2 linked regions of the Homo sapiens genome follow. The protein of the gene in region 2 purifies or fractionates together with the protein of the main gene of each other region. This does not show direct contact. Each region holds a gene or a part of one and is shown on either strand. Other genes may lie near its edges.

The links. Proteins that work in one complex are often made in the same cells at the same time.
Region 1: the proteins of TIMM23 (region 2) and TMEM184B purify together in Homo sapiens (affinity purification with mass spectrometry; one large-scale study listed by BioGRID and IntAct). This does not show direct contact.

Annotation. Positions count from the first base shown.
Region 1 is NC_000022.11:38,221,011-38,224,510, reverse strand, and holds part of TMEM184B (transmembrane protein 184B), read left to right. Parts: exon of another isoform or gene 1-32; intron 33-1,848; coding exon of another isoform or gene 1,849-1,869; intron 1,870-2,764; coding exon of another isoform or gene 2,765-2,800; coding exon 2,801-3,042; 3' UTR 3,043-3,500. UniProt on the Homo sapiens protein: May activate the MAP kinase signaling pathway.
Region 2 is NC_000010.11:45,975,489-45,978,988, forward strand, and holds part of TIMM23 (mitochondrial import inner membrane translocase subunit Tim23), read left to right. Parts: coding exon 1-24; intron 25-3,500. UniProt on the Homo sapiens protein: Essential component of the TIM23 complex, a complex that mediates the translocation of transit peptide-containing proteins across the mitochondrial inner membrane.

The sequences.
Region 1 (3,500 bases), on a different chromosome or scaffold from region 2:
AAATTCCCTCGGGCTTCTAACTCCCAACACTGTGGTTACCATTTTGTCCTGTAATTCCCTCATCTCATATGCTATTTTTTAAAAAAAGGATACTTCTGGCCGGGCACGGTGGCTCACGCCTATAATCCCAGCACTTTGGGAGGCCGAGGCGGGTGGATCACAAGGTCAGGAGATCGAGACCATCCTGGCTAACACGGTGAAACCCTGTCTCTACTAAAAATACAAAAAATTAGCCGGGCGTGGTGGCGGGTGCTTGTAGTCCGAGCTACTCGGGAGGCTGAGGCAGGAGAATGGTGTGAATCCAGGAGGCGGAGCTTGCAGTGAGCGAGATTGTGCCATTGCACTCCAGCCTGGGTGACAGAGCAAGACTCCGTCTCAAAAAAAAGAAAGAAAGAAAAAAAAGAATACTTCTGAGAAACAGACTCGGATGGTAATAGGTTTTAACAGCTTTCTTTTACACCTGCGAATCTTCCTCCTTGCTAGAACAGTGGTAAGTAGCCCCAGTTGTACTGGAAAATGCCCTGGAGAGCTTTTGGAAGTGCTGATACCCAGCCCCACCCTCGGAGATCCCGCTGTAATGGGTCCGGGCTGGCAGGCTGGGTGTGCTGTGAGAGTTCTGTGCTTTAAGCACTCCCAGGGTGATGTGAAAGTGCTGCTGCCCGGGACGCTCCACTGGGCTGGAAGGGCTGCCTCTGGCCACTGGGCAGAAGGGGGTTGTCCTTGGAGGATGGGGAAGAGGAGGCTGGGAATGCCTGAGACTGATTGAGCCAGTAAAGGGGCAGGAGGGACTGGGGAGAGGGGAGCCTCCTTCTCTGACACATCCACCCAGGAGCCTGGCTGCTGCCAGCTGTCTGCCCGAGTGGCTGGAGGCAAGAAACCCACTTCCCCAGGGCCTACCTGCAGGCCCCACACAGGCTCCGTGGTGGGTGGTGTGGACTGTAGAAATGTCTGCCTGCAGCGGGGCTCCGCGGCCCACTTCCCGCCCCCCTTCCTCTGTGCCTTCCCTGGTGGGGGAAGACCTACTCTGTGCCCAAAGAGCAGGTGCACAAAGGCCAGGGGTTGCCACCTGGTGGCCCAGTTGGAAGGATCTAGCAAACACACACCCAGCATTGAGGGCAGTGTCCCTTGGACCTGGTGTGGTATACCCTGTGCCCGTGGGAACATCATCCTTGGGCCTGGGGCCTGGGGCCACCCCAAGGAGCAAGGGGGCCCATGGCAGAGAACCATTCCTGCACCACTGGGGCTCAGCAGAGGGGCTCTGCTGCCTGGCCTGAGCTGTCCCTCTAGACATACCCACGCCCGGCCGGGGAAGCTGCTTGCCCTCTTCTGCCTCCCCACTGGTCCTGAGCCCCCTGCTACCCTCTAACCCAGGCCCAGACCCTCAGCCCTCAGGATAGGCTTAGGTGCAGAGCTGGCTCAGCTGTGCGATTGTAACCCCTCCCTCTGAGCCTCCATGTCCTGGTCTGGGAAGTGTTGTGAGGTTTGTAAAATGTGAGGTGTGGATGTGGCCCCAGGCTAGCCGGGGAAGAAGTGGGGATGGGACGTCCTGACCTAGACGTGGAGGCGGAACTCAGTCGCCAGACGGATGTTTCCTGTTGGCGTGAACACCAGGGGAGGAGTCATCCCTAGGTGGATATCCCCCCTGCCAGGCCCCAGGAGGCACCTGGAGCTTCCTGGGTGCCCTGTGGGGCCTGGGGGGGTGGGGACAGGGTGTGTGGTGTGTCGTGCTGGTGGGCCTCGGTGGTGGGCACACATTGTTCACTCAGCTGTCTCTTGTCTTCTCTATTTCTTTGGCTTCTCTCCCCGCCCCCCTTGCCCTGCTTTTGCCCGGGGTTTGGCCGCGGGCAGTGCCAACATACGGCCCTTACGGTAGGTCCCGCTCTTGGTCTGCATGTCTGTCCTGCATGTCAGTTCTGGTCACTGTCACTGGCATGCGTCTCTCTGTAGCTCTTCTCCGTGTCCTCATCTCCTCCCCACCGGCACCCCCTGGGTGGGAGCGCCCAGAGCACCTGTCAAGGGCCACCCTCTGTAGAGCTTGCCTGCTTCCGTCCTCGTTTCTCGTTCTGGAATATGCCCCGCCTTCTTCTGGGGGCACAGTGCTGTTCATGGGATATCGGGGCATTTCACGATGTTTCCAAGAGTTCACAAGCTGAGTCAGGAATCCTGGGTTCCAGGGGTGGGCTCGTCCCTTACATCCAGGTGTCCTGGGCCACCTTTCTGCTCTGAGCCCCTGAGGATGGGGACAGTTGATTAGAGAGATGAGGAGGAAGCCCTCTTAGAGGGAGCCAGTGAGTCGCATCTGCTCCCCTGGGGGTGCAGGCCAGCCTGGTCCTGATCTCCAGAGTAGAGGGAGCACAGCACTTCCCCCGGTGGTGGGGGACGCGCCTGGCACCTGTGGAACCGGGCACCCCTGGCTTCCAGGCCCTCTGGCCCCACATGCCCCAACTTCAGTCAGTGCTGAGCCTGCTCTGGCCTCTCTGGGGCATTCTAGGCTCACTGCCCATAGCTTGCCAGTCTCCACCCTGGGTCCCTTCCCTGCAGCCAGCCCAGCTCCCAGTGGGGGTTTATGTCTGCTCCTCTTCACAGTCCAGCCTCCCCTTGGGGCTCCCCAGCCAAAGAAGTCCATTTTTTCCTGCCCCTTCTCATATCCTGGACCCCATTCTCTGTCCCAGAAGGGATGGTTGAAGGGCATAGCTTTGGGTTGGGGGGTGTCTGTCCCAGGATCACGGGCAGGGGCTGAGCCACCTCCCTCTCACCGTCCCAGCCTCCTCACCTGCCCCTCCCGCTCCCTGCCCGGCAGGCCGCTGTGCCCCCATGAAGAGCATCTCCAGCAGCCTCAAGGAGACCATGAACCCGCACGACATCGTGCAGGACGCCATCCACAACTTCTCACCTGCCTACCAGCAGTACACGCAGCAGTCCACCCTGGAGCCTGGGCCCACCTGGCGTGGTGGCGCCCACGGCCTCTCCCGCTCCCACAGCCTCAGTGGCGCCCGCGACAACGAGAAGACTCTCCTGCTCAGCTCTGATGATGAATTCTAGGTGCGGGCTGCAGTGGCGGAAGTGCTGGCGCCATAGCCACGGTCAGGCTGTGCCCCACCTCCAGCCTCACCACCAGGCCAGGAGGCAGCTGGCACAGTGCTCACGCCGCCTTTATTTATTGGACCAGAAACACTCACATGTCACTTCCAGAGGAACGGGGGACAGCCAGGCTCGCCCATGGGCCTTCAGGAATATTTATACATGGCCCAGCCTGCACTGCCCGGGCGAGGGCAGAGGACACTGGGAGCAAGGCTTATGCCCCTGCTGCCCGTCCTGTGCTGGGGGCATGCTGGGACCAGCCGCACCCAGGCCCCAATGCTTGTGTGTGGACCAGCGGCTGCAGCCTTCTAGCCCCTCCTCCCCGCGAGACTCTCAGGCTGAGGTCGGCAAGCCGTGGCTCCCCCACACACCGTGCAATACCCTGTCTGACCTGGGCTCTTCCCGCCTGCATCCCTCCC
Region 2 (3,500 bases):
GTGGATCCACGATACCTCGTGCAGGTAAGATTAAGATTTTACTAGTTTGGTGCATTATTTTACCATTTTAAAAAAAACGCCAAGTGCTATGCTGACTTGAACTATGACATACACTTTTGGAGGCAGTAAGTCTCTGGTCTCCATTCACCCTTTTTTCCTCACAAACACCAGGAGCTTGGCCTGCATCTCTCTGAAACCAGTTAACTCCCTTCAAAAGCTTATTTTTTAAAACCAGAGCAGAATTAATTTTTGAAAGCACCCCAATAAAAGTATTGGGATGCCTAGTTACAAAGTGTGTGGGGTTTTTTGTTTGTTTGTTTGTTTGTTTTTGAGCCAGAGTTTTGCTTTTGTCCTCCAGGCTGGAGTGCAGTAGCGCGATCTCTGCTCACTGCAACCTCAGCCTCCCAAATTCAGGCCATCCTCCTGCCTCAGCCTCCCAAGTAGCTGGGACTACAGGCGCCCACCACCACGCCTGGCTAATTCTTGTGTTTTCAATAGAGACGGGGTTTCACCATGTTGGCCAGGCTCCCAAAGTGCTGGGATTACAGGCAAAGTGTGTTTTAAAGCTCAGTTTACAATATCAGGGTTTTTTTGACTAAGCATCAAAAGTTTCAAAGAGTATCTTTTTGAATCCAAGATATATTAGGAAATATATCTTGGGTATATTAGAAAAGCAAGGTTGATTTAACATCTGAAAATTAATGTATTGTGCCATATCAATTTATAATAAAGCAATCAAGGAAAGAATATAGTACAAAGACCACATGCTTATCTCAATAGATTCACAAAAATCATTTGACAACATCCAACACCCCCTTTAATGATTATAAAAACAAACTAGGCTGGGCGCAGTGATTCACACCTGTAATCCCAGCACTCTGGGAAGCTGAGGTGGGCAGATCACTTGAGGCCAGGAGTTTGAGACCAGCCTGGCCAACATAGCAAAACGCTGTTTCTACTAAAAATACAAAAATTAGCCAGGCGTGGTGGTGCCTACCTGTAATCCCAGCTGCTTGAGAGGCTGAGGCACGAGAATCGCTTGAACCCTGGAGACAAAGGTTGCAGTGAGCTGAGAACACCCCACTACACTCCAGCCTGGGCAACAGAGTAAGACCCTATCTCTAAATAAATAAATAAAACTAGACATAAAAGGGACTTCAGCCTGTTAAATGCCATCTACAGAATATCCAAAGCTAACATAATTTAATGGTGAAAGACTGAATGCCTTCTCCCTAAGATCAGGAACAAAATAAGTATATTTACTCTCATTTATATTCAGCATTGTCTGGCCAGGGCAATTAGTCAAGTACGTTAAATGGCATTCAAGTTGAGAAAGAAGTTAAACTATCTGTTTACAAATGACATGATCTTATCTATAGAAAATCACAAGGGAAATCACAAAAATCTGTTAAAACTAATGATCGAGTTCAGCAAGTTGCAGAATACAAGTTCAATATACATAAATCAAATATATTTCTAGACAGTTGCAATGAACACTACAAAAATGAAATTACAAAAAACAGTTGATTACCAATAACATCAAAAAGCAAATACTTAGAAATAAATGGACCAGGTGCAAAACATATTCTGAAAACTATAAAACATTATTGAAATTAAGTGGAAAGACACATGCTATGATCCTGAAAATTTTAATATTAAAATGGCAGTGCTCACCAAATTAACCAACAGATTTAGTGCAGTGCCTGTCAAAATCCCAGCTGGCTTTTTTGCAGAAATTGACAAGCTTTTATCCTAAAATTCATATGGAAATTCAGGGGACATAGAATGGCCAATGACCTTGAGAAAATAGATTGGAGGACTTGAACTTGCCAATTTCAAAACTTTCTACAGAGCCACATCATGATAGTAACATAAGAATAAATCCATAGTTAATGAAATACAGAGTCCAGAAGAAAGACCTTACAATATATGCAGTCACTTGCTTTTCAGCAAGGATGCCAAGATAGTTAAGTCAGGGGAGACGTTAGGACAACTGGAATCCATATGCATAAGAATGAAGTTGAACCCTAACCCTGCACCATATGCAAAATGTTACCACCAAATGGATTAAAGACTTAAATGTAAACTAAAGCAGTCAAACTCTTAGAAGAAATCATGGGCACAAGTAGTTGTGACTTTGGATTAGACTGTGATTTCTTGGATGTGACACCAAAAGCACAAGTGGTAAAAAGAAAGTTGATAAATTGTATTTAATCAGAATTTAAAAATTTTGTGGTTTAGACAATACCAACAAGAATGGAGGCCAGGTGCAGTGGCTCATACCTGTAATCCCAGCACTTTGGGAGGCTGAGGTGGGTAGATCACCTGAGGTCAGGAGTTCGAGACCAGCCTGGCCAACATGGTGAAACCCCATCTCTACTAAAAAACAAAAATTAGCCAGGCGTGGTGCTGGGCGCCTGTAATCCCAGCTACTTGGGAGGCTGAGGCAGGAGAATCACTTGAACCTGGGAGGCAGAGGTTGCGGTGAGCCAAGATCGCGCCACCCGCACTTCAGCCTGGGCAACAGAGTAAGACTCGGTCTCAAAAAAAAAATAAAAAAATAAATAAAGAATGGAAAAAGTCCTGGCGCAGTGGCTCGTGCCTATACTCCCAACACTTTTAAGAGGCTGAGGCGGGAGGATCACTTGAGCCCAGGAGTTTGAGACCTGCCTGGCCAACATAAGAAGATCCCATCTCTCCAAAAAAATACAAAAATTAGCCGGGTGTGGTGGTGTGCACCTGTAGTCCCAGCTACTAGGGAGGCTGAGGTGGGAGGATCACTTGAGTCCAGCAGGTCAAGTCTCAGCATAATCAAACCACTTAACTCCAGCCTGGGTGACAGAGAGAGACTTTGTCTCAAAAGGAAAAAAATTGGGAAAAGACAATCCACAGACTGAGAGAAAATATTTGCATATTATGTATCTGATAAGGAATTTATATCTAGAATATTTAATTTTTTTAACTCTTGAAACATTAATAAAAAATAATTACAAAATGGGCAAAGGATTTGAGTAGACATTTCTCTATGAAGATATACAGATGTCTAATAATGACATGAAAGCTGGTCAGTAACATTAATTAGAGAAATAAAACCACAATGAGATACCTCTTTACACCCACGGGGATCACTATAATCAAAAAGAAAATAATGAGTATTGTTGAGGATGTAGAGAAATTGGACCTCTGTACATTGCTGGTGGGAATGTAAAATGATACAGCTGCTTTTAGAAACAGTCTGGCAGTTTCTCAAAGTGTTAAAAATAGAGTTACCTTATGACTGGCAATTTCACTTGCGTATACTCCATACTCAAGAGAATTGAAAACCTCTGTGCACATAAGTTGTAAATGAATGTTGCTAGTAGCATTATTCATAATAACCAAAAAATGGAAACAAACCAAATGTTTATCCACTGATGAATGGATAAAAAAGTGTGGCATATCCATACAATGGAATATTATTTGGTAATAAAAAAAGAATTATTAAATTGTGCTACAATATA